Homo sapiens: one gene and its partner. The protein of the gene in region 2 purifies or fractionates together with the protein of the main gene of each other region. This does not show direct contact. Each region holds a gene or a part of one and is shown on either strand. Other genes may lie near its edges.

Evidence for each region. The genes of interacting proteins can lie anywhere in the genome.
Region 1: the proteins of MTHFD2 (region 2) and MSRB2 fractionate together in Homo sapiens (co-fractionation; one large-scale study listed by BioGRID). This does not show direct contact.

The regions. Positions count from the first base shown.
Region 1 is NC_000010.11:23,098,579-23,102,078, reverse strand, and holds part of MSRB2 (methionine-R-sulfoxide reductase B2, mitochondrial precursor), read right to left. Parts: intron 1-3,500. UniProt on the Homo sapiens protein: Methionine-sulfoxide reductase that specifically reduces methionine (R)-sulfoxide back to methionine.
Region 2 is NC_000002.12:74,201,411-74,205,246, reverse strand, and holds part of MTHFD2 (bifunctional methylenetetrahydrofolate dehydrogenase/cyclohydrolase, mitochondrial isoform A precursor), read right to left. Parts: exon of another isoform or gene 3,768-3,836; intron 1-3,767. UniProt on the Homo sapiens protein: Although its dehydrogenase activity is NAD-specific, it can also utilize NADP at a reduced efficiency.

The sequences.
Region 1 (3,500 bases), on a different chromosome or scaffold from region 2:
TTCCTAATAGCCCATAATCCCAGTTTAATTGTGAGGAGAAACATCAAACAATCCCAGACTGAGGGACATTCTACAAGGAACCTGACCAGTCCTCCCCAAAACTGTAAAGGTCATGAAAGACAGAGACAGTTTTGACAAATGTACTATGATGATGTCAGAAGATTACCAGGGGGATCCGGATGAGGGGTCTTGAGAACTCTGTACTGTCTTTATAACTTGTCTATAAATCTAAAATTATTCCAAAATAAAAAAGCTTATTTAAAAAACTATCTTCTCCATGGCTACCCGTGTACCATCAAGCACTACTGGAGAAAATCCCCCACCTGGGGAGAGGGTTGTCCTTATAAACTCAAAGTTACTCATCTCACTGGGGTTTCAGTGAACCATGGAACCATCTTTCCCCAGTCAGCTCTCTTCCCATTTCTCTGCAATGAGTGTTTTAAACCTTTTCCACTCTCAGGAATGTAAACTAGTACAACCACTATGGAAAACAGTGTGGAGATTCTTTAAAGAACTAAAAGTAGAATACCATTTAATCCAGCAATCCCACTACTGGGTATCTACCCAGAGGCAAAGAAGTCATTACATGAAAAAGATACCTGCACACACGTTTATAGTAGCACAATTTGCAATTGCAAAAATATGGAGCCAACACAAATGCCCATCAATCAACTAGTGGATAAAGAAATGATGGTATATATATAGACTATGGAATACTACTCAGCCATAAAAAGGAACAAAATAATGGCATTCACAGCAACTTGGATGGAATTGGAGACTATTATTCTAAGTGAAGTAAGTCAGGAATGAAAAACCAAACATCGTATGTTCTCATTCATAAGTGGGAGCTGAGCTATGAGGATGCAAAGGCATAAGAATGATACAATAGACTTTGGGGACTCAGAGAAGAAAGGGTGTGAGGGGGATGAGGAATAAAAGACTACACATTGGGTACCATGTACACTGCTCGGGTGATGAGTACACCAAAATCTGATAAATCACCATTAAAGAAAGAACTTATTCATGTAACAAAACACCTGTTCGCCCAAAAGCTATTGAAATTAAACAAAACAAAACAAAACAAAACAAAAAACCTTTTCCACTCTCCTCAAACCATGGTATCTATCTACTACGTCTCCCCTTCCTCTCAACAGATTTCACTTTTGCAAAATCAAAAGCCACAAACCTTCTGGCTACCAAACCATCACACTTACTAATACCTACATCTACCCTTTTTCCATCTTGTCACAGTGGAACGAGTGACTGCCTCTGATATGGTTTGGCTCTGTGTCCCTACCCAAATCTCATGTGACATTGTAATCCTCAGTGTTGGAGGTGGGGCCTGGTGGGAGGTGATTAAATCATGGGGACATATTTCCCCTTTGGTGCTGTTCTCGTGATAGTGAGTTATCGAGAGATCTGGTTGTTTAAAAGTTCACCTCCCCCTCTCTCTCTTCCTCCTGCTCTGACCATGTAAGATGTGCTTGCTTATGTGCTTGCTTCCTCTTCACCTTACATCATGATTGTAAGTTTCCCGAGGCCTCCCCAGCCATGCTTCCTGTACAGCCTGTGGAACCGTAAGCCAATTAAACCTCTTTCCTTCCTAAATTACCCAGTCTCTGGTATTTCTTTATAGCACTGTGAAAACAAACTAATACAAGCCTCTTCCTGTCTGTTTTTTTGCCACTTCTGTTCAGGATCCTGTCTCTTCTTGGCCACCTCAAATGATTTAAAAAGAGAATGCTTTAGCCAGAGGCACTAAAAAGAGCAAGAACAGGCTTTGCTAGAAAGAGTGTATGTCCTGGGTTCCTCCTCCCAGATCTAAACTCTGGTCCCGTGGGGGAATTTGTGAGACCTAATCTCTGGCTATCATTGACATTTGTCAAGGAAAGGACTAAACGCATCATGATAAAACACCCTCCTCTTAGCTTTGGCAAAGATCTTGCATTATTCCTGTAGATAGGTAAGAGGACCAACTTCAGGTACAAAGGTTGGAATTTACAGTCTGTGAAGCTGGCTTTATCTTCCTGTCTCCTTTCAGGCAGGAAGTGGAATGGGCTTAGAAAAAAACCCTATTGTCTCCTGGAAGCACTGTCCTTAGTGTGACTCAACAGGCAGTACACTATAGTAGCTGACACTGGAAAGTGGGAATTAGAGAAGAGCTAAAAGTCAGTGGGACTCTCATGAATTGAGCTTTAAAACATGTACTTCTTTCGCTTTGAACCTAAGGCTTGAGTTGGTCTGGGTTCCCAGCTCCCTCTCCCACACCTCTATATTTTGTTACACGTATTAGAGAGTGACTATCTGTTCTTCAGACACCACCTTCTCCCTCTGCCCTAATTTTTTTAAGAGACCGAGTCTCACTGTGTTGCCCAGAATGGAGCACAATGGCTATTCATACGCATGATCAAAGTACACTACAGCCTTGAATGCCTGGACTCAAGCGATTTTCCTTCCTCAGCCTCCCAAGTAGCTGAGACTACAGGTGCGTGACACAGTGCCACGCCATAATATTTTCTTTTTAAGTTTAAAATATATAACTAGTATTTAAATTGCTAACCAAAAGAATTAAGCCTTCATCTAAGTACAATATGGAAAGGACATTTTTAATGGTTCTTTTAATCCTTATCAATGTGGACCTTTTACACTATTTTTAATGTGTGCGAAAACTTTAGTGGGTAGGCAATAATGTTTAGACTAGTTCTTGTTCAAGCACCAATTATGCAACATTTAGCTGCAGAATTTGCCAGCCTAGAAGGCTCAGTCAAGGGCAGACAGACTTTGCTTTGATAGCAAAATGATGAACGCTCAGTTGGGTACACCCAGGTCAGGTTATATGTGGGCTGTATCACTTTAAGAGGTTTCTTTGACCTGGATGTTATGAGCTGAATTGTGACACTCCCTGCCCGCCAACTTCCAAATTCATATGTTGAAGTCCTAATCCCCAGTACTTTAAAATGTGACTGCATTTAGAGACAGGGCCTTTAAAGAGGCAATCATGTCAAAATGAGGCCATTAAGAGGGGGCCCTGGTCCAATAAGACTGGTGTCCTCATAAGAGGAAGGGACAGCAGAGAAAAGGCCGCCTGGGGACACAGCAAGAAGGCAGCTATCCCCAAGTTAAGGAAAGAGGTCTCAGGACAAATCTCAGGACAAGTCTTGGCCTTGGACTTCCAGCCTCCAGAACCGTATGAAAATGAATTCCATCGTTTAAGCTGCCCAGCCTGTGATATTTTGTTATGGGATCCCTAGCAAATGAACACACTGGGGCTTTAGAAAACAACCAAAGTTTAAATAAAAATTACAGTATGAGTAAATTCTGAGCAGTTTTATCAAACAGCAATTTAGGCACGTGTAAATTAGATACACGACAAGGTCTCTCACTTGGGAATGAGTCAAGTCTTCTGGCTACCGTGGCTAGAGAGAGGTTTCAACACTGGCTGTGTCCTTTTCTGTGTGTGTGCAGGTATTTTCTGTCCTCTGCACCACGTGCTCATCCTT
Region 2 (3,836 bases):
TGTTTTGTCCCTGTTGTTAGCAGCCAGGCATGTATTTCAAATCATTTCCCAGTCAACTGACTTCATTTTTATGGTGGTTTAAATCGATAAATTATATTCTGTAGTTGAATAAACAAACAATATAGGCCGGGCACGATGGCTCACGTTTGTAATCCCAGCACTTTGGGAGGCCGAGGAGGGCAGATCACAAGGTAAGGAGTTCGAGACCAGCCTGGCCAACACATGAAACCCTGTCTCTACTAAAAATACAAAAATTAGCTGGGCGTAGTGGTGGGCTCCTGTAATCCCAGCTACTCAGGTGGCTGAGGCAGGAGAATCACTTGAAACCAGGAGGCAGAGGTTGCGGTGAGCTGAGATTGTGCCACTGCACTCCAGCCTCGGTGACAGAGCTAGACTCCGTCTCAAAAATAAACAAACAAACAAACAACATACTGGACAGGTCAAACATCAAAATGACCACCACTCCCCACAGTCCCTTCTGGGGAAGACTTTCCTGGTAAGAATAGGGGCAGGGCAGGGGACTGGAGGAAGCTCCTTCTCACAGTTGGCAATGTGCTCTTCCCAGGGACCCCACCATATCATCCAAAGCTGACAGACCAGGAGTGAGTATGTGACGCCAAGGGCAACAATCTCTAGGCTGGCCAGTGGTCCAGTTGGCGCAAAAGCTTAGCTCAACAGAGCAGTGAGAGTTAGTTGAACCAGTAAGAGCTCGTCCCTGAGGCAGTTCAAACTAGAACCACAGAACAAAGACAGAAAGAATAGGCAGAATAATAGTCACACCAATGGGAGACAACAGGGCAAGAAATCAGAAAACTGTTGCTGAGGTGGGGAGCAAGAAGAAAAATCAGGATCTAGAAGAACCTCCAGTTCCCAAAACCATGTTCAGCTGCCCGAAAGGCTGTCTCTTCCCAAAGAGAACTGCTTATGCAACTCTTCCTGGGTTCCATGAAACCCAAATGTGGAAGAGTCCCAGTTTTCCTATTTTCACACATGTCCTTACAGTAAAGTGCCCATTACTTAAAGATGAGCATCTGGCCCAGCGTGGTAGCTCAAGCCTGTAATCCCAGCACTTTAGGAGGCCGAGGAGGGTGGATTGCTTGAGGTCAGGAGTTCCAGACCAGCCTGGTCAACATGGCAAAACCCCGTCTCTGCTAAAAATACAAAAATTAGCCAGGCATGGTGGTGCGCGCCTATAATCCCAGCTACTCAGGAGGCTGAGGCAGGAGAATTGCTTGAACCCAGGAGGCAGAGGTTACAGTGAGCTGATATCACCCCACTGCACTCTAGCCTGGGCGACAGAGAAAGACTGCATCTCAAAAAACTAAACTAAACTAAACTAACTAAACTAAACTAAACTAAACTAAACTAAACTAAACTAAACTAAACTAAACTAAACTAAACTAGATGAGCATCTCTTCCTTAAGTAAAATGATCCCATTAAAAAAAGCCTTTCCCTTTAGATCTCTGTCCTTGGTGTCATGAAGACTGCTCTAACCTCAAGACCAATGAAGTAATCTCCTCTTATATTCTAAAACCTAACATCAAGGTACTGAATATCCTGTAGGGTCAGATAAAATTAATTCTCAAGATAACTGCTAATTTATTTATTTATTTTTTTTGAGACAGAGTCTTGCTCTGTTGCCCAGGCTGGAGCAATCTCAGCTCACTGCAGCCTCCCAAGTTCATGCAATTCTCCAGCTTTTGCCTCCATAGCTGAGAATACAGGCACCCACCACTGCACCCGGCCAGTAACTGCTAATTTAAATGGGATTTTAAAGCTTTCACAATCTTTAGGCCTTCAATAAGTGTTTTTTATTGCATTATGATTAAATACCAACTTTAAACCAAATCTCAACATCTTAGATATAATGCAATAATCTTATATATAAACTTTATCTTAATCTGTATTGCATCTTGTGAAGTATTAAATTATTATAATCTGGCCAGGCACGGTGGCTCATGCCTGTAATCCTAGCATTTTGGGAGGCCAAGGTGGGCAGATCACTTGAGGTCAGGGGTTTGAGACCAGCCTGGCCAACATGGCAAAACCCCGCCTCTACTAAAAATACAAAAATTTGCCAGGCATGGTGGCAGGACCCTGTAATTGTAATCTCAGCTACTCGGGAGCTGAGGTAGGAGAATATCTCGAACCCAGGAGGCATAGGTTGCAGTGAGCCAAGATCACGCCACTGCACTCCAGACTGTGTAACAGGGCAAGACTCCATCTCAAAAAAAGAAAAAAGTTACAATCTTACAGCAAATCAAATACTTTTACCCTGATTTTATATAATACTAGCATGGCACAACATATAATAGCATTTAATTATACCCATGGTATATGAAGAAATTGAAAACATATTAATATTCACAATTCCATTTCAGAATTAGAGTCGAAGAGGACTTCATTAAAAGGGTTTTGCAGGCCGGGCATGGTGGCTCACATCTGTAATCCCAACACTTCGGGAAGCCAAGGTAGGCAGATCATGAGGTCAGGAGATTGAGACCATCCTGGCTCATATGGTGAAACCCCGTCTCTACTAAAAATACAAAAAATTAGCCGGGCATGGTGGCACGCACCTGTAGACCCAGCTACTTGGGAGGCTGAGGCAGGAGAATCGATTGAACCCGGGAGGCAGAGGTTGCAGTGAGCAGAGACTGCCGTGAGCGGAGATCGTGCCACTGCACTCCAGCCTGGGCAACAGAGTCAGACTCCATCTCAAAAAAAAAAAATTAAAATAGGGGGGTTTTGCTGATACAAATACACCTGGCAACATTCCTCATTCCTGATTTGTATTAGTACCTGGAATGCCCACCGCAGGCCAAAAATACATTCCTAATCCTGGAACACTACAGAGTGAAAGACTACTTTAAAACGGCTTAGAACAGTCATTTATGTTGAATGAAATAACAAACATATATAATGTGCCAGGCATATATGTTCAATAAAACTAATTTCTTACTCTTTTCTCTTGGTTTTATATATATATGTATATATACACACACATACACATGTATCCTTAAAATAGATACACTTACACATAAGGAGATATATATAAGTATATACACTATATGTATATCTAGTCAGTGAGAATGACTTAGCTTGCACCTCATAAAAAGTTTCTTTTGAAAGCAGTAAACTTAGAGAAAATGGTATTAGCACATTCAGATAAAATCATATACTGAAGTTAAGGACACAGGGTTCTGGGAAAAGCCAGTGTTCCAAGTCCCAAACTTTGCTTCCAAAAGCAGGTTCTGGATGTTATGCCAATTTGCTTAAAAAAAAAAAAAGAAAAGAAAGAAAAACAGTCAAAGAGTAACAAGAACCAAAAACAAAGTCACATGCAATGAATATCTTTCATAGTATAACTGTCAGCCCTCCTCTGCTTCCCACAACTCTGCAAAATGTGAAATACAGCCTTGGGAGTGAGTCATTAACTAATTTAGCATCATCTCTTTTGCCAAGGGGCAGATTAACTGCTACCCCAAAATAAACAGGGAAATGGAGAGTCAGCTAAGTCCCACGGGGAATCCAAAATTGTAACTATATTAGCTAACATTTATCCCAGAATTAAATGCATTCACAGATGTGTTTAGAAAAAATTCCCAGGGCTGGGCATGGTGGCACAGGCCTTGTAATCCCAGCATTTTGGGAGGCCAAGTTCAAGACTAGCGTGGGCAACATGGTGAGACCCCATCTCTACTAAAAGTTAAAAAAAAAAAAAATTAGCCAGGCATGGTGGTATGCTCCTGTGGTCCCAGTTACTCACAAGCTGAGGTGGGAGGATCACTTGAGCCCAGGAGGTCAAGGCTGCAGTAAGCCGTGATTGCAGCACTGC